3 linked regions of the Homo sapiens genome follow. The protein of the gene in region 3 interacts with the protein of the main gene of each other region in a biochemical or structural test. Each region holds a gene or a part of one and is shown on either strand. Other genes may lie near its edges.

The links. The genes of interacting proteins can lie anywhere in the genome.
Region 1: of the proteins of BTRC (region 3) and CDC25A, one has a biochemical effect on the other in vitro, tested with the Homo sapiens proteins (3 studies listed by BioGRID and IntAct, with this or other methods).
Region 2: of the proteins of BTRC (region 3) and DEPTOR, one has a biochemical effect on the other in vitro, tested with the Homo sapiens proteins (3 studies listed by BioGRID, with this or other methods).

What each region holds. Positions count from the first base shown.
Region 1 is NC_000003.12:48,157,414-48,164,446, forward strand, and holds part of CDC25A (M-phase inducer phosphatase 1), read right to left. Parts: intron 7,025-7,033; coding exon 6,894-7,024; intron 2,043-6,893; coding exon 1,931-2,042; intron 1,673-1,930; coding exon 1,532-1,672; 3' UTR 1-1,531. UniProt on the Homo sapiens protein: Tyrosine protein phosphatase which functions as a dosage-dependent inducer of mitotic progression. Directly dephosphorylates CDK1 and stimulates its kinase activity. Also dephosphorylates CDK2 in complex with cyclin-E, in vitro.
Region 2 is NC_000008.11:120,002,693-120,009,725, reverse strand, and holds part of DEPTOR (DEP domain-containing mTOR-interacting protein), read right to left. Parts: intron 6,750-7,033; coding exon 6,615-6,749; intron 2,922-6,614; coding exon 2,851-2,921; intron 698-2,850; coding exon 593-697; intron 1-592. UniProt on the Homo sapiens protein: Negative regulator of the mTORC1 and mTORC2 complexes: inhibits the protein kinase activity of MTOR, thereby inactivating both complexes. DEPTOR inhibits mTORC1 and mTORC2 to induce autophagy.
Region 3 is NC_000010.11:101,553,151-101,557,832, forward strand, and holds the end of BTRC (F-box/WD repeat-containing protein 1A), read left to right. Parts: intron 1-4; 3' UTR 5-4,163; downstream 4,164-4,682. UniProt on the Homo sapiens protein: Substrate recognition component of a SCF (SKP1-CUL1-F-box protein) E3 ubiquitin-protein ligase complex which mediates the ubiquitination and subsequent proteasomal degradation of target proteins. Recognizes and binds to phosphorylated target proteins.

The DNA of each region.
Region 1 (7,033 bases), on a different chromosome or scaffold from region 3:
CCCGTAACACAGCAACTAGCCATCTCCAGTATCACTGATTCCCACCCCAAGAAGTTGAGGTAAGAGGGGAGAGACTGTCTCCTGTTTAAGAAAAACCCACCTACACCTCAGTGAAGCCGTGATGGTAAGGAGGCTGGCACCAGAGGGCAGGGATGAGTAGGCACTGAAACAGGTCTCTCTAGAATCAATGAAGTCTGCCCCAGCTCCTTGGATGAGGTGTTCTTTTGAAATTCCCACTTTTATGGAGTTAGATAAGGGGACAACCGGTGATGATTCATCACTCCCTGTCTCTAAAATTAAAACATGATAAACCCAGAAAGTTTTACCTTCAAAATCCACCAAGCTCCCTCCTGAGAAAATTCTATCCAGTCATGTCCATGCCAGCACCCACTCCCTTCTCCTAATGCCCAGGGCTTCCAGCCCCTCTCCTCACCCTTGGGTGGTCCATCCAACACTGATTTGATACTCTTTGACTCATAATATGACCATTTTTTAAAAATTAGAAAATAAAAGCTATCAATATCACAGCAACATAAGGAAGATACTCAGTGGACATGCTCCTCCCCCATCCTGTGGAGCCCACCTACCCCCACCCCCCTTCCCTGGGAAACCTACACTGCAACATTCCAGCACTGAGCCGGGGGTGGCCCAACAGATGCTGCCTCAAGTGCTTTCCTGACTGTGGCTCCTATACCAGCCAATGTCATGGAACTGGGGTGAGGAAGAACAGGGCCACACCTCCCACCAAATAGATATCGGTAGCCAGTGGTGGGTCTGGGAGATTTAGCTTATGTCAGGCAGCCAAGCCTGGGTCCAACGCTCTCACCAGGACCTCAGTTCTTGGCTTAAATAGCAGCAGCCCCAGTACCACAGCGCCTCCTGGGGGTGACAGAGCACCTAGCTTTCTGTCCGATAACTTATAACAGGTTTGCATTTTCTTACCCACTTCTTTTTTTTTTTTAAATTAAAAGCCGAGGTAGTCCCTGGGATAATAAAACCCTACCTAGAATGGCAGTATTTCAACCTAATGAAGCAGTAAAATAAGTCTCCAGGAGTTAGAAAAAAAAATAAAATAAAGTGATTGATGAAGTTGAATAAATTAAACATATGGATTATCCCACAAAGACCTTTCCTTCCCAGGTTGTCTTTGCTATTTGGCCAGCAGCATTTCTGTGTAACTTCTCTACTCCCCTCCGTCTCCTCTCCCCTCATGAGATGGCTGGAGCCCGATAAGGCCCCGGCTGGTTCATCCCACTGTGGCTCAGAGCAGCTTGACACGGTGCTCAGAACTGCATTGTGGCACAGTTCTGATATGGACGGAGGACGTCTAACAGGGACAGAAGAGGCGTAGCCAGCAAGATGCCCTGGGCTCCAACCTTGGGAGTGTGGGAGGTAGGTTTAAGGCATGGAAGTCCCAGGCCCCCTCTCCAAATGTCACACAGCTGTCCCCTTTGCTTAAGTTTCTCTGCAGCAAAGAGGGTAAAGGGGGATGGAGGGAAGCTTGGGCTGCTGCTGGCTGGTCCTGCCGCCCTCAGAGCTTCTTCAGACGACTGTACATCTCCCTCTTGCTCTTCTCCCCTGCCCAGGTCCGGCTCTTGGTGCGGAACTTCTTCAGGTCTTCTTTAAAGTCCTCGTGGTGCATGGGCCGGTAGCTAGGGGGCTCACAGTAAGACTGAGGGGACAGGAGAGAATAAGGTTAGGGTACACCTGCCTCACACCCACAACCTGGTTTCCTCTCTGCCTAGGGCTACAAGGCTGAAAGCGGCCAGGCAGACCTAGGGAGCCAGTTCTACAGGGGCTTTCTTTGGGTTCAGCAGATACCCACCTTGTCCCCCGACCCCTGGAAAGAAAGTCATGACCACCAGACAGATCCATTAGTCTACCACTGGGGGCAGGGGAGGAGAGATGCTCTCCACAACCCCAGTCTTACCTGGCATTTCATAAAGAACTCCTTGTATCCCCCCTTCAGGACATACAGCTCAGGGTAGTGGAGTTTGGGGTATTCATTACCCAGGCGATCTCTCTCTCTCACATACCGGCACCTAGTCAGGGGAAGGAAGGCCAAAGCAGGGTTAGCTTTTCCAGCACAGCAACAAGGCAACGCAGTCAAAGCAGCAGTTGTGGTCTAAGTCCCCCTTATACACATCTTCCCAACTTGACATTTATTCTTAGAAACAATCAGTGCTGAGTTGCAAGTTCCTGGCCACATGAGCAGCACTCACAGCCAGTGCCAGTAGATGGTCTCTTCCCCAATTTTCCTTTCTCCAACAATCCTAGCATCTGAGTCCTGCCCAGCACCTTCACCACCACAGTTTGTGGCAAGTTTTCACTATATGAGCCAGCTTCCCCTTGCTTTCTCCACCCCAGCCTTCTCTTCAGCCAGGCTCCCTCACTCACCTCCTTCTACATAAGTGGGCTTGTTTCTTTCTGTGGCTTTTAAAGAGGCTGAACTTGCTCCTGCCTCGGGGCCCTGTTTCTATCCTCTACTTGGACTGAATGGTCTTCAATATCCAGCCAATGGCTGCTTACTGCCTCGCCCTTGGTGAAAAAGCCCGAGGCCCCAAGTCCTTCAGAGGCCTACAGCTCTACAGGCCCCTACTGCTGCTCTGCCCCTTGTTCACCCCACGCCAGCCCCTGCAGCCCCACTACTGTTCCTCCAGCCTGCCTGGGAGCTCCACCACTGGCCTTATTTTCCTCTGAAGCACCTTCTTTTTTCTGAGACAGAATCTCACTCTGTCACCAGGCTGGAGTGCAAGGGCGTGACCTCAGGCTCACTGCAATCTCCGTCTCCCGGGTTCAAGCAATTCTCCTGCCTCAGCCTCCCAAATAGCTGGGACTACAGGCGCGTGCCACCGCCCAGCTGATTTTTGTATGTTTAGTAGAGATGGGGCTTCACCATGTTGGCCAGGATGGTCTCGACCTCTTGACCTTGTGATCCACCTGCCTTGGCCTCCCAAAGTGTTGGGATTACAGGAGTTAGCCACCGCACCCAGTCACCTTTTTTTTTTTTTTTTTGAGATGGAGTCTCACTCTGTCGCCCAGGCTGGAGTGCACTGGCGCGATCTCGGCTCACTGCAACCTCTGCCTCCTGGGTTCAAGGGATGCTCCTGCCTCAGCCTCCAAAGTAGCTGGGATTACAGGTGTCCGCCACCACGCCTGGCTAATTTTTGTATTTTTAGTAGAGACGGGATTTCACCATGTTGGCCAGGCTGGTCTCGATCTCCTGTCCACTCCGAAATGTAAGTTCCATGAAGGCAGAGATTTTTTGGTCTGTTTTGTTCACTGCTCTTCTCCCTCAGTATCTAGAAAGGTATCTGGTACACAAGAGCCAAGAGTATCTGCTGATTTTCTCTTGAAGCTCAGTGGTTTGGGGCCTTTGTTAGCTGCTCATGAGGGATGGGCAGCAGCTTCCTCTGCAGCACGTAGCTTAAACCATTTGCCTGTGGTTAAAAGGAGTTTGGCTGGGCGCGGTGGCTCACACCTGTAATTCCAGCACTTTGGGAGGCTGAGGCGGTGGATCACGAGGTCAGGAGTTCGAGACCAGCCTGGCCAAGATAGTGAAACCCTGTGTCTACTAAAACTACAAAAAATTAGCTGGGCGTGGTGGCAGGTGCCTGTAATCCCAGCTACTTGGGAGGCTGAGGCAGAGAAATGCTTGAACCCGGGAGGAGGAGGCTGCAGTGAGCCGAGATTGTGCCACTGCATTCCAGCCTGGGCGAAAGGGCGAGATTCCAACTCAAAAAAAAAAAAAAAAAAAAAAAAGAGTTCACCTGTGAATCCCAAATCTTTCCCCAGTGGAACAACAGAAAGCCAGTGATGGCGAAACTCAAGTGGGGAACGAAGTGTAAGGGGTATCTGTAGATGGTGATATAAACATGCAGCTTGCAAATACAGAATACAGAGATGGGGCGTTTTCTGTATATCTAGGTGAAGTTTCAATATGGTATAATAATGTCCTTTATATTAGAGGTGTTAAAGAGGAAGATGGGGAAATGAGAGATTAAGAGAATAGCATCTTTTGGGCTGGGCATGGCGGCTCACACCTGTAATCCAAGCACTTTGGGAGGCCAGGATTGCCTGAGCCCAGGAGTTTGAGACCAGCCTGGGCAACACAGTGAGACCCTGTCTCTATAAAAAATACAAAAATTAGCCAGGCATGGTGATGCATGTTTGTGGTCCTAGCTTCCTGGGAGGCTGAGGTGGGAGAATCACTTGAGCCTGGGAGGCAGAGGCTACAGTGAGCTGTGCTCCTGCCACTGTACTCCAGCCTGGACAACAGAGACTGACCCTGACTCAAAAATAAAAAAAAAAGAGAGCAGCATCTTTTGTGGGTTTAAAAACAATTTACATGTGTGTGTATGTGTGTCCAGATTAGTTTGTTTCAGGCCTATAATCCCAGCACTTTGGGAGGCTGAGGCGGGTAGATCACTTGAGGTCAGGAGTTCGAGACCAGCCTGGCCAATGTAGCAAAACCCCGTCTCTACTAAAAATACAAACATTAGCTTGGCATGGTGGCATGCACCCGTAGTCCCAGCTACTTGGGAGCCTGAGGCAGGAGAATTGCTTGAACCCGGGAGGTGGAGGTTGCAGTGATCCGAGATCGCACCACTGCACTCCAGTCTGGGTGGCAGAGCAAGACTACATCTCAAACAAACAAACAAAAAAACTGCTGAGTGAATAATTCCATTCATGAATGAGCATCCTTTGGAGACAGATGTTTGAAGGACTTATGAGATGACAGTCAAAAGTGTCAAGTTGTACTGTAGTTGCCTGTGTGTAGAGCATGTACATACAAATGTGACAAAATGTTAAAAATTAATAAAATCAGGTGAAGTGTGTGCAAGTATAACCTTTGTGTGTGTGTGTGTGTGTGTGTGTGTGTGTGAGAGAGAGACAGAATCTCACTCTGTCACCTAGGCTGGAGTACAGTGGCATGATCATGGCTCACCACAGCCTCGACCTGCTGGGCTCAAACGATCCTCCCACCTCCTATTTTTTGTAGAGGTGTGGTCCCACTGTGTTACCCAGGTTGGTCTGGTCTGAAACTCCCGAGCAAGTGATCCTCCTGCCTCGGCCTCCCAAAGTGTTGGGATTACAGGTGCCACTGTGCCCAGCCATAACCTCACCTCTTCTTGAGCTTTAAAATGGTTCAGGTCAGGCGCAGTGGCTCACGCCTGTAATCCAAGCACTTTGGGAGGCCGAGACGGGCAGATCGCAAGGTCAGGAGATGGAGACCATCCTGGCTAAAATGGTGAAACCCTGTCTCTACTAAAAATACAAAAAAATTAGCCAGGCGTGATGGTGGGCACCTGTAGTCCCAGCTACTCGGGAGGCTGAGGCAGGAGAATGGCATGAACCCAGGAGGCGGAGCTTGCAGTAAGTCGAGATTGTGCCACTGCACTCCAGCCTGGGTGACAGAGCGAGACTCCGTCTCAAAAAAAAAAAAAGGTTCAAAGGGGTGGGCACAGTGGCTCATGCCTGCAATCCTAGCACTTTGGAGGCCAAGGAGAGAGGATTGCTTGAGGCCAGGAGTTTGAGACCAACCTGGCCAATATATTAAGACCCCATCTCAAAATTTGAAATTTCTGCTGGGCGTGGTGGCTCACACCTGTAATCCCAGCACTTTGGGAGGTCAAGGCGGGTGGATCACCTGAGGTCAGGAGTTCAAGACCAGCCCGGCCAACATGGTGAAACCCCCATCTCTACTACAAATACAAAAATTAGCCGGGTGTGGTGGTGCACGCCTGTTATCCCAGCTACTCAGGAGGCTGAGGCAGGAGAATCGCTTGAACCCAGGAGGTGGAGGTTGCAGTGAGCCGAGATCATGCCACTGCATTCCAGTCTGGGTGAAAACAGTGTGCCTCCGCCTCAAAAAAAAAAAAAAAAAAGAAAGAAAGAAAGAAAGAAAAAGCCAGGTGCAGTGGCTCACGCCTGTAATCCCACTACTTTGGGAGGCTGAGGCAGGCGGATCACCTAAGGTCGGGAGTTCAAGACCAGCCTGACCAACATGTAGAAACCCTGCCTCTACTAAAAATACAAAATTAGCCGGGCGTGATGGCGCATGCCTGTAATCCCAGCTACTTGGGAGGCTGAGGCAGGAGAACTGCTTGAACCTGGGAGGCAGAGGTTGCAGTGAGAAGAGATTGTGCCACTGCACTCCAGCCTGGGCAACAAGAGCAAAACTCCGTCAAAAAAAAAAAATTGAAATTTTTTAATTTAAAAATGTTTTTTAAAATAAATTGGTTCAAAATAAAAAGGTGGCATAAGAACGTGGTCCTGCAGAAGTCTCCCTTGGACCATCCTAGTTAAGCTGCACTCTCTGTCCTACCTCTCTGCCTGTCCTCCTAGCATTTATACGGATCCCCACTTGGATCTCTGCTGCAGTAGGGTCCTTGTTGGTCCTGCTCGCTGTGGTATTTTTACTGTACTGTGTTTTACTGTAGTTACATTTTTATTGTCAGTGCCTGACAAACAGCAGGCTTGCAATCCTTTTAGAATGGACACAGATGACTGATGGGCAGCTCTTTGGCCCCCTTTTTTCTTTTCACCCTGAAATTGGTAATAATATCAAGTGTTTCAAAGCATCATATCATATGAGGTTTTACAGAATGAGAACTTCACACTTTTCTGGCATTTGCATAAGGAACGGTCACTTTGTACTTGAAGGAGGTCACATGAGAACAGTAGCCCCACAGATCAGACTAAGGACAGTCGGGGAGACTGGAAGAGCCAAAGTTCACCTCAGGATAAAATTACATATGAAAATGGCTTGTTATGTGCCAGAGGTTGCTTGATATGCTAAAATATGCTCCAAGTGCAAGCCACAAACCACCATGTCCCACAAAAGCATCATGGAGCCTGTGCCCCAGAACCCAGTTCCGTGCAGCACTCACATGCGGGGACCTCTCTCAGAAGAAAACTCGCAGTGAAACACAACAATGACACGCTTGCCATCAGTAGGTACAATGGGCTTCTTCAATAAGAAGTCTTCAACCTCTTCTTCCATGTGCAAGTTCACTGCACCCTGTGAAGA
Region 2 (7,033 bases), on a different chromosome or scaffold from region 3:
TTAGGGAGAAAAAGTACACATGGCACCAAATAATGAAATTAAGCTAGAGGTATTTAGACACTGCTAAATGTTGTTTTGTTGTTGTTGTTGTTGTTTTGTTTTGTTTTGTTTTAGAGACAGAGTCTCGCTTTGTCACCCAGGCTGGAGTGCAGTGGTGCGATCTTGGCTCACTACAACTTCTGCCTCCTGGGTTCAAGCGATTCTCCTGCCTCAGCCTCCTGAGTAGCTGGGATTACAGGTGTGTGCCACCACGCCCGGCTAATTTTTGTATTTTTAGTAGGGATAGGGTTTCGCCACGGTGGCCAGGCTAGTCTTGAACTCCTGACCTCAAGTGATATGTCTGCCTTGGCCTCTGAATGTGCTGGAATTACAGGTGTGAGCCACCGCGCCTGGCTAGACACTTCTAAATGTTTATTAGAGGAGAGGGAAGACCCAGGGAAAGGTTAAAGACTTTGGAGAACAAGAAAGAGAGGGCAGAAATAGAAAAGGACACAAAATAAGATGGGTTTGGATCCCTAGTAAGAATCATGGCCAATTTAGCATGAAGAACCCAAGACAGATATAAAAGAGGGTGAGAAAGACCCGTTAGTACCTTCATTCCTGCTGCGGCTGCAGGGCCACTGGGGTCTACAGCCTGGATGTGGCATGGCTTACTTCCTCGCACCACAAAACCCCAGCCAACCGCGTCACCAACAATCTAGAGAGGAAAACCACAATTAGCAAGCAGCCGACTGTCTCCGGCAATTTGCTTATTCTTCTGAGGGAGAGAAAACCAGCCCAGGATTAAGTATACACTGTGACATATTTTCCTCCGTTTCTCTCTTCCCTGCCAGGGGATTGGAACACTGCTTCTATCACAAACCCGGGCATCTCCCTGTAGAAAAGGTGGTAAAAAAAATCTAACCTGTTTGGCAGAAAGAAGATGCTCCCATGAGGGCATGATTCAATAAACAACTGGAAGATTTTCTCTTTCTTAGGCTGTTATACAATTTAATGTCAGACTCCAATAGAAGGTTTAGAAAAAGTCGTAACGTGGTTGAAATGTCTCTCCAGATACAATTTCTGCTCTAAGTTTGTTCTTTTCCCCAGTATCCAAATGATACACTCTTGATCCTGCAACGTCATTGAAGTCTAGCATAATTATTGAAATTACTAATGGTGGGAAATAAAGAGACCTGGCTTTTTTTTTTTTTTTTTTGAGACAGAGTCTTGCTCTGTCACCCAGGCTGGAGTGCAGTAGTGCAATCTCAGCTCACTGCAACCCCACCTCCCGGGTTCAAGCGATTCTCCTGCCTCAGCCTCCTGAGTAACTGGGATTACAGGCATGCAACACCATGCCTGGCTAATTTTGTGTATTTTTAGTAGAGACAGGGTTTCACCATGATGGTCAGGCTGGTCTCGAACTCCTGAGCTCAGGTGATCCACCTGCCTCAGCCTCCAAAGTGCTGGGATTACAGGCGTGAGCCACCATGCCCAGCCTCCACCAAGGGAGCCCTCCACCAAGGGCTCCACCATGCCCCTTTCTCCACCAAGGGGGGAAAAGAAGTGAAAAAGTACATAAAGTTCACAATGTACAAGTAGACTCTAATCCAAAAGTTGTTTGGAATTAGAGAAGGCCTTTTCTATAGAAATCATTATTAGAGCTGGCAGTTTAATTCCCTGGACAGCTCCTAGCCACATCTTTCACACATATCCCAACCAAAACACAGCTGAAACACATTCACAATCAATTACTAACAATGTTGGCATTTAAATTAAAAATCAAAAATAAATACTTTCAAAATAACAATCTACCTCTCTTGAATGCTGGAGACTGAGGAAAAACAGGGAGGCAAATGAAAATTTTTGTGGAAATGCTCAAGATTTTCAGGCACTTCCGTTACTTTACAGTTTGCTGTTATTTGTATATTATACTCAATTTCACTTCCGAAGGTGGAGTTTATCTTTTCCTCTGGTACAGACATGTTGTCAGCGCCTTTCTCCTATTAACTCCTCAGCATTCAGAATGTGAAATAGCCCTCAGCAAATGTTTGCAGCATGACTGAGTGTGGATAGAATTCTCCCCCAGCCTGAGGCAATGCCACTAAAGTTAGAAGATGAAGGAGGAGAAGTGTTTTGAAGAGGGTATGAACGTGAATTTGAGGAGATTGACAGAAGGAGACACAGGAAGGGGAGTGGGTGCGGTGATGCTGAAAAGAGCACTTTCATTCCATTTGAAGAAATCCAACGTAGGCATTAGGAACCTAAAGGACCTCCAAGAAGGGGCAGGTGGTCCGGAGCTGCTCACAGCAAGTCAGAGGCTCGTGTACCTCAAGGCATGCACACATTGTCGAAGCACCCTGCCTACGGTAGAAAAGTTTATCCCACAGTTTCCTTTCTCTAGCTTAACACTCCCCTAATGTTTTAAATAATTTCTAGAATTAATCCTAATGCAGAAGGGATTATTGGCATCATTTGCACTTCCATTTGCCATAAAATCTAATAATAATTTAAATGACTAATGGTGGGAAATAAAATCTAAAATTATTAGATTTTAAGGTAAATGCAAGTGCAAATGATGCCAATCTTGAAATTTGCAATTAAATTAGAATAAATGCATAATGGAAATCTTTTCTTTAACAAAGAACACATCAAAAAATTTTTAAATGGTATATTAATAATAACGCATGTGAAGTCCTAATGCACCTTAGTGCCTTGAGGTCAAGAAAGCCTAGTATCATAATTACGCTAAAAACAAAAAGAAAATTAGAAAAGTAGTTTTCATTTCAGTCTATAAGCTACCCATTGACACATGGACACGGTGCAGAAAAATGGGCAGCACGGGAGAAAAAGGCCAGACCATCAGCCTACCGTGAATGTCTTCCTTGCATACGGAGCCCCGGGAGTAAGGAGTTCCTCAGAGGTGACAGGTCTCTTCAGCACTGGCAGACAAACACAATGTCAAGACATAAGCACTTCCAAGTCCTCTATCCATGCATTCAGCAGCTATTTATTGATATCTCGTAGGTGACCATCAGTGAGAAAAAGTGGCAAAGATCCCTGCCTCACAGTTTATATTTTAGCTGAATGGAGACAGTAAATAGCAGCAAACATAAATAACCCTAAACCTACCTTACAAAGCTAAGGAAAAAAAGAAAGAGAAGGAAAGCAAGAGTGCCAGGGGTGGGGATAAGGGGGCAGGTCAATTTTTTTTTTTTTTTAAAGACGGAGTTTTGCCCTTGTCACCCAGGATGGAGTGCAATGATGCGATCTCGGCTCACTGCAACCTCCGCCTCCTGGGTTCAAGCAATTCTCCTGCCTCAGCCTCCTGAGTAGCTGGGATTACAGGCACCCAACACCATATCTGGCTAATTTTTGTATTTTTAATAGAGACAGGGTTTCACCATGTTGGCCAGGCTGGTCTTGAACTCGTGACCTCAGGCAATCTGCCTGCCTCAGCCTCCCAAAGTGCTGGGATTACACGCATGAGCCGCCCAGCCTCACTTCCTTCTTAACACCTAGGACTGCATGTACCCACTGCTTTCTGCCATGAGTAATAATGCTAGTGAACTTTTCTGAGTACTCAACATATGCTAGAGAGGCACCATGTGAGGTGAATATATTAACTCACTTAATCATCACAAGAATGAATGAGTTAGGATCATTGTTATCCCCATTTTATAACTGCAAAAACAACCTTAGAAAAGTTAAATTGATTGTGTCCAAGGTCCCAGAGCGAATGGGTGGCAGAAGTAGAATCAAACTCAGGCATTAGACACCAGCACCCACACTCTCAGCTACTGTGCCACATTTACTCTGGGCCATGCTGTCCTGCAAGCAAAAGAAAGGGTCTAGAAGCTCAGGAAGATAGTGGCATGCTGTCCTCCTGAGACACCCGTTCACATCAGCTCACTGCTGTTGCCCACCAAGATGGCAGACAGCAGCCAATTCCTGACTTGCGGCTGCCTAAAACCCACCGATAATGAACCCCCCCATCCATCCTGTGCTCACTAAGAACTGGAGAGGGGCTGTCGTATCCTCCCCAAGTAGCCAGGGGGTCAGGGGACAGAGACCATTCTAATCCAGCTCTGCAGACATTGTGAACTTGAAGTGCCACAGAGAAACAGAAAAGGCCCCAGCCAAGGGGCCTAACCTGGTGAGGTGGCATCCTCCGATCCCCTTTGCTAGTGACAGTCAGAGGCCAGGTACCAGTCCTGGAAAGAGTGTGCAGCAGACAAGGAAAGGCAGCGTGGGGCAAGGCGTGATGATCTACCAGGCAGCTGGACCTCGCCCACTGGTTACATGAACGGCCTTCTGGCCTGAGAAGCACCCTCTCAGTGAAAGGCAATCCAGTGCTTCTTGTTGAGGTGACAGGTTGCTGATCTTATCACCTTTGCTTTCAGAAATCTCATAAAAGCAAAAATTAATTTATGTTCGCCAAACAAGAGGGAGTAGGTCAAATATCAAGATGGAAACAGAATCTCTCAGCAGATGGATGGGAGGTAAGAAAAGTGGTCAGTATTTGAGGACTGAGATCTTTTTTATTCCCTGTCAGGTAACTCTCTCTCCACTCCCCATAAACCCTCAGGGGGCTTATGAATTTGGATACATGAATCACACTGTACTATTTGGCAGCAGAGCTGACCATTCATTTTAATGCACTTCTCTTTATTATGTTGAAAAATATAGAAACTTTGAGGCCTAGGGAAAACTTTTTTCTTTTCATATCCTTGGAAGCTTATTTGCTTATCACAATGATACTGATAACATCAATATCTTTAGTACTGTTTTTTGTGTCTGGCTTAGGGCATTTATATACAGTACTAAAAAAACATATCCTGGTGTATTTCAGATAATTAATTTTTAAATGCATCACTGTGAAGGCCTGATCATCTGCTTGAGAAAAAAAAATCACAGATGAACTCACTGGGTCTTGGGAATCCTCTTAAGAGTGAGAGAGAAGCTTGTCAAACTATGGGTAAGAAGTGGAATTTACAAACCACAACTCAGTCCTGACAGCTCTTGTCCTTGGGGACCCACGAAAGGAAACGAGACCTTTTTCTTCTGCCTGCATAACAGTAAACTCTTCCCTTTGACCCAGAGGCAAGGAGAAAGAGGAAACATGCTAACCTACCTCAGGGAACATGGATTTTGTTGCTAATTTCAGTAATTAACACTTTTTTCATACTCCATCATAAGCAATCAAAAACTTGTAAAATGGTTATGGCACCACTGACCCTTTTATTGAAACTGAGATCTTTTGCTTTTAACTTTGAGGATGCCTGTCAGATTTCTACAAAGGCTTCAAACATCCCATTTCTAAGAATTCAGTTCTCCTTTTTCATTCTACTTTAGCAGCAAGCTCCAGTAATTGAAAAACCCAGTACTCAACGACTCTTCAGCCAGGACAGTATGGAAGCAAGCTTCTTCATTCACTTACAGGTTACATTTATTCCTGCTGCTAACACTCCAGAAGGCAGCAAAAAAAGAAAAAAAGTTAGATCAGGAAAAAGAGCCACCTTCCTAGATAATACCATTAGATGACAGAGTTTTCTCTCAAAGCCTTTTGAACTGCATCAATTAGTGCTTATTCTTACTAACATGAAATGTTTTGTTTTTTTCTCCAAAGAGGTGGTGTTTTCATTGAGTTGGGGGTTATGACCTGTCATCTTTGTATCCCCAAGATCTGATGATGAGGAAACAACATGAACAAAAGGAACAGAGCCTCTTCCTCGAAGGTGACAAACTGAACTGGGGGTGGACAGTGCCTTAAACAAATGGGTTTGAGAGTGTTCTCTGGCGGTTACTGTAGTGATGGACCACACATCCTCATCCTGGCAAGTGAGGACATTAGGTGGGTAAGGGATGGTGAGAAAGGGTAGTTTCAATGGATTACCAGTTCCTGGGTGGTTGATGAACTGATTGGGTGGAGGAAGGATTGTTTCTAAGTACATGTTCACCAACAATTTTGTGCCTAGATTTTTTTCCTGGAATATAAAGGCCATGGAGGTTGATGAGCAGATTTTGAAACCACAAGACACCCAGGGTCAATTCCAGGGATAGCTGGGTTTGCACACATCCATGCTTCTTCCTTAAGGGTGTTGGGCCCCAACAGATCTTATGCATCGGCTGCATTCTGGGGAAGTGCTGTTTCCCCTGCTGTGAGCACTGTCACATACTGCCCAAAACACCCTTCAGGGCTCAGGGACTTCTCCCAGCTCCGAGAGTGCTAATGGTGACAGCCCTCAGCTGTCTTGGAGACCATCTCTCTGAAGACACCTGCTTTGCCCAAGGTCATGCCCTCCTCCCAGGGGCAGCCAATACCTAATAAGTGGCCAACATGTGGATCTAAAGGCCCAGCCCCCTCAACACAACTCCAGGCAACTTGGAAGGGCCATCCCAGCTCCAGAGGTCTTACTGGGTCAATGATAGCCTTCATTGAGACTGGGCTACAACCCAATTTCTCCTTCAGCCCAATTCTTCCTTCCCTTCCATTCAACACGTGTGGACCCCAAGAGCATGCTCTAACTTATTAGAACCCACACACTAGTCTCCCGCTATCTCAGATTCTGCTTCCCAGGGACCTGCCCAAGTCCCCACAGTCTTAGGAGCGGGGCCACCTTTTGGGCACTCACCGGACTTGGGGTTGCAGAGCACAGGGGGGCTGCTGCTGAGGGTGGGGCTGCTGCTGAAGTAGCCGCTGCTGCCACAGCTGCTCATGCTGCTTCTCCTCACTGCAGACACGATCTTGATCTCCTTGCTGGGGCTCACTGTGTAGGCCAGAGAACACACACAGTCACCAAGGGGGTGGTCTCGGCTCACTAGAGCACATAGGCTTTCAACTGCAAGGTCCAGAGGGGCCAGGAGAAAGCACACTGGTCTTAGTGGCAGAAAAACAAGAACTTGAGTTGCAGCTCTGCCACTTACTTTATATTATATATATATATATATATATTTTTTTTTTTTTTTTGAGATGGAGTCTTGCCCTGTTGCACAGGCTGGAGTACGTGACACAACCTGGGCTCACTGCAACCTCTGCCTCCTGGGTTCATGC
Region 3 (4,682 bases):
ACAGGACCCATTAAAGTTGCGGTATTTAACGTATCTGCCAATACCAGGATGAGCAACAACAGTAACAATCAAACTACTGCCCAGTTTCCCTGGACTAGCCGAGGAGCAGGGCTTTGAGACTCCTGTTGGGACACAGTTGGTCTGCAGTCGGCCCAGGACGGTCTACTCAGCACAACTGACTGCTTCAGTGCTGCTATCAGAAGATGTCTTCTATCTTTTGTGAATGATTGGAACTTTTAAACCTCCCCTCCTCTCCTCCTTTCACCTCTGCACCTAGTTTTTTCCCATTGGTTCCAGACAAAGGTGACTTATAAATATATTTAGTGTTTTGCCAGAATCTCTCTTGCTTTGCCATTAAGCAGAAGAACTAGTTTCCCTGTATAGCCTGCTGGGAGAGACCCACTTCTAGGGTATGGGGGATGCAGCTTCAAGCCCAGTGCCCAGTGTCTCCCTGTTAACTGCAGGAATGCCAAGCACCTGGCCAGAGCAGCCCAGCCCCAATATGCTTAGGAGGAGACAGAGTTCCCTCTGTATAGCCTCTGGGACAAGAAAAAGAAAACACAAGAATGTATACACTGGAAGATTTGGGCCTCCTGCCTGCCTTCTCTTTGTTTCTGTTCCTCTTCCCATCTACTCCCCTACGCCCCTTCAACCTTTTTTCTCTGTCTGCTTCACCTGAGAAGAAAGTGTACGAAGAGAGTGTCCTCCTCTCACATGAGCCAGATCAGCCAGAAAATGCAACACTTGGAAGAGTTAAATGCTGTTCAGTGAAGATTTCAGCCCCAGGCCTTTGCTGCAAGTGACCCTGTGGCAACAGTGGATTCTCAGACATGATACTCTCATCATATTTGCAACTCTTCTCTCTCTTTCTTCCCCACACCCAAGAGGAGGATTGGTGGTAGGGGGCAGGCAGAGGGGGTGGGGAGAAGTTTCCTGGGCTCCATCAATGGCTGCATCTTTTCTGGACTCAGCAGTCTCCTTGATTCCATGTAGAGTGTGGAAAGGAGTTGCTGATTGCATTTCCTCTCATTAACAATTGGGTGTGTAATAAAAAGCATTGTACTTCATCTTAAATCACTGGTAAGGCTCAGCCTACAGAAAGATTTGAAATGGCCAGAGCCAATCGCTTGGTGCATTCTGCGTAATGGTTTCCATCTCCGATTTCCTCATCAGGGCCTGTGAATACCCAGGTGCCTGTATCTTTGCCAAGACCGTGATCAAGGTAGCTTAAGAGAGATGGTCAGGAGAAAACACTGTTTTTGTTTTTTTTGTTGTTTTGTTTTGTTTTGGCCAGTTAAATATCATCTCTCAAATATTGATCTCACCGTGTCAACCTTGCACTGCACAACCTTCCTTCTGCTTCTCCCACACCCAGTATTTGCAGAAGGGCAAAGCTGCTTAAGAGAGAGGATCAGGGTGAAGTTTGGCACACAGGGTTTATTAATGGGGCAAAAACTGCCTTTTCTTCCTCCTCCTGACCTTATTTTGCTCTTCACTCTCCCCAGCCAATAAAGCGTCTGTGGCGATTGGTGAACAGCATAAACAGCTGGACCTCAGCAAGGGTCAGGCAAACCCAGTCACTCGGAAGGCAGCTGTGTGAGCTGCCAAGCTAGTGGGCTTCAGGTGCAAGGGTACCTGTGCCACACCAACCTGGGAGCACACAGAATACTATTAATGTGCACCCAGCTGGTCTCCCCAGGCAAGAAGGTATCCTCTTCCCAAGGTGTACCCACTGAATGTTGTTACTACATATTGAGAGTCATTTTATGCATATGCATTCTACCTTTCCTGCTTTATGAGTATTTTTAAGCTTTTAGTTCAAGGTTATATTCAGAAAATATTTCCCAGTATAATGATACATCGTAGCCTAAGAAATATTTTCTCAATGTAATTCCCTTCCCAGCTACCCAAATGCTACAGAGAAATGTTTTCTACTTGGCCACTATCAGGGTTCGTCATCTATTGTGTTGACTATTAATGGCTTTTTGATTGGGTAAGGATTTTGCTATAGATGAAGGTAGAGGGCTGTCAGCCCTGAAAAACACACAGGTCAGACATTTAAAAGGCATGGGTTTCGAGCTGTCTCAAAATATTGCCCAATAGCCATAATTTTACCAGCCTTTCTGTCATATGCTGCTATTACAAAGTGGAAGCTGTTGAATGTTTATTGGTGCCCAGGGTTTTGCTCTCCAATCTAGGTTCAGTTGAAGGAATATTGTTTCTAAGACTGTTTTGAGACATGTCCAGTACATCACAAAGGAGATCGGGGCGACCCCTGCAGATGTGGAGCCATTAGCCCAGTTGAGGATATTCTCCAAGTTGTCCTCTCTCCTGCTGATGGAAATGGGAATGAAGTTAAGTGGTCTGAAAAACTTGAATCGTTCACATTTCTCAGCTCTGGGGGTCATTTACCAGTTTGTTGTAGAAGAAATAATCAGGTAAGTTAAAAGTTCATTTCCAGAGAAGGTAAACCCCACTTACCATCTCTGCATGATTTCAGTGGGAATTGATTATCACTAATCCCCAACTGGGCTAGAATAAATGTAAAGTTTGACCTTTTTAAAACGAAAAGAGAGACAAAGTCTCAGCACATTCCAAGGAGTGGTAGAAACAGAGCTGAAGGTGTCCCCATTGTAGATTAGTCTCTTCTCACTAAAATTTACTTTCCAACGTAGGGCCTAAAGGAAACCTTTCTTAAAGACAGGCTGAAACCCCTTCAAAGGCAGATGAGGAGGTACAGACACGTGACCTTTTGGTGCACACTGGAGCTACTTGGACAAGACCAGCATGCCTTGCTGCACGTGTGTGTATTTCACTGCTGAGAACATCCTTTAACTTGGTGTGCAATTTGAAAGGATGTGAATCATGGATGGAAGGCCATTTGTACATGTCCCTTGGCAAAATTCTTTCTGGTGTCTCCTAACTTCAGAGACAGGGACTCTTTTTGGATCTCTATTGACAAGTAATAAAAGTCTGGCCCTCATAACTTGTTTCCGAACTAGAAAAGTCTGTGAGACCCCTACATCATTCTGGTTTTTTTGCTTGAGTAAGAACAATCCTTTTTTATTTTTCTTCTGTACAGTCTAAAGCTACAGAGAAAAAAAAATGCACTCTTCCCTTGCCGGCTCCTGGTACCATTGGTCTGAACAGCTGTAGTTGGTCTACTCCTTACTTAGCACTTGATTGTGTGGGGAAACAAAGGTGGGAGGGGTGGGGAATACTGGAAATAATCAGGGCAATTTTTTTCTTTCCCATAATTGGACTAGATACCTTGGTACTGTTGACCTTCTCAGCATCTCCCTTTTGCCTTAGATGGCAACACCCTCCAGTCTGTAGCAGAGCAGTCCAACCCAGATTAGTGCAGCCCGGAGGCTTAGGGTGCAGCCTCCCTGGTCTTCCTCCACACAGTTGTTCACCAACAGACCAGACCTCCTTTAACCACAGTGTCAACATAGTATCGGAAAGAGAGCCATTTCTTAGGGGAATAAAACAGTTTCGCTTCTTTAGCTCATCTGTGGTGTCAGAATCCTTGGAGCTGAAGAGAGAAATCAAAAGAGCATGATGATGGCTGCCTGGTTTCAGGTGGAACTTAATGCATTGATCTTTAGAAGCTCCTTCTGTTGGAAGTTGAGTACCTGTGATCTAAAATGTCCTGGAGGCAGATGACATCTAAAATATGTGCTTTCCAACCAGCACAGCTGGCGCTCTTAGCTCCTGATTGGTTGTGTGTTTTATTAAGGATCAGTGCAGTTAAGTCGTATTTTAAAGTGTTACCTCCCCTCCTAACCCTTCCCCTTCTTGGACACTGAAGGAAAAGGCCAACTAGGGTGTTAGCCCTCTGGGCACCAAGGAAACTAACAGCTTTCTCAAAGCGGTGACCACTCAGGCCAGCCCAGACAAATCTGAGGGATGGCCAGTGCACTCCAATGATGGGACAGGCCTAACAACACATGTAAGCTTCCCCGAGAGCTTTCAGCTGGTTCACCTCTTTGTTCTCTAGACTCTTAAGTACTGACTGCTTTGACTTTTGTGATTATGTTATGGTGATGTGTAGTCAGTGTACCAATATGTTCACAACCTAGGATCATGATAATGGAGTGTGTTTTGGGTTTTTTTTAACTGTTCAGAAAAAAAGTAAATTACAAATATAAGATTAAAGTGAATTTTCTAAGCGTCTTGTCTCCTTGCCCCAGCATCCAGAAGGGCAGTACACTTTTCAGTATACAGACTGAGGGAGTGCAGAGATAGAATACCTTTGCAGATAATCTGACATGAGAAAACAAGATTGAGAGAAAGCAGGGCTGGATGCTGTGGATGAGTGTGGGGTCCCTGGCTTACGCCTACTGTTCCATGTTGAGTTAAATTGAAGCCAAAGTCATGTCTCATTTGTGCATTGGTCACCTTAGCCAACCACAGCCCAACCTGAATGCAGAATTTACATTTTTCTCTGCCCCTCAGCTGTGAAAAGACTTGAGTTTCCCCTACATCCCATTTGATCAGTTTATAGGCAAGCAAGCTCACATCTGGGAGCAATTTCCAGAGGGGCTCCAACAAGCTGTAAGAATGAAGGCACCCTTGACTATCTGGGATATGACATTGCAGTTCTTGAGTGAAACCCCCCTTCCCTCCTTCAGCCAAACCTGGAGAGGTACAAGGTTGCAGGCAGTGGCCGAATGGGACTA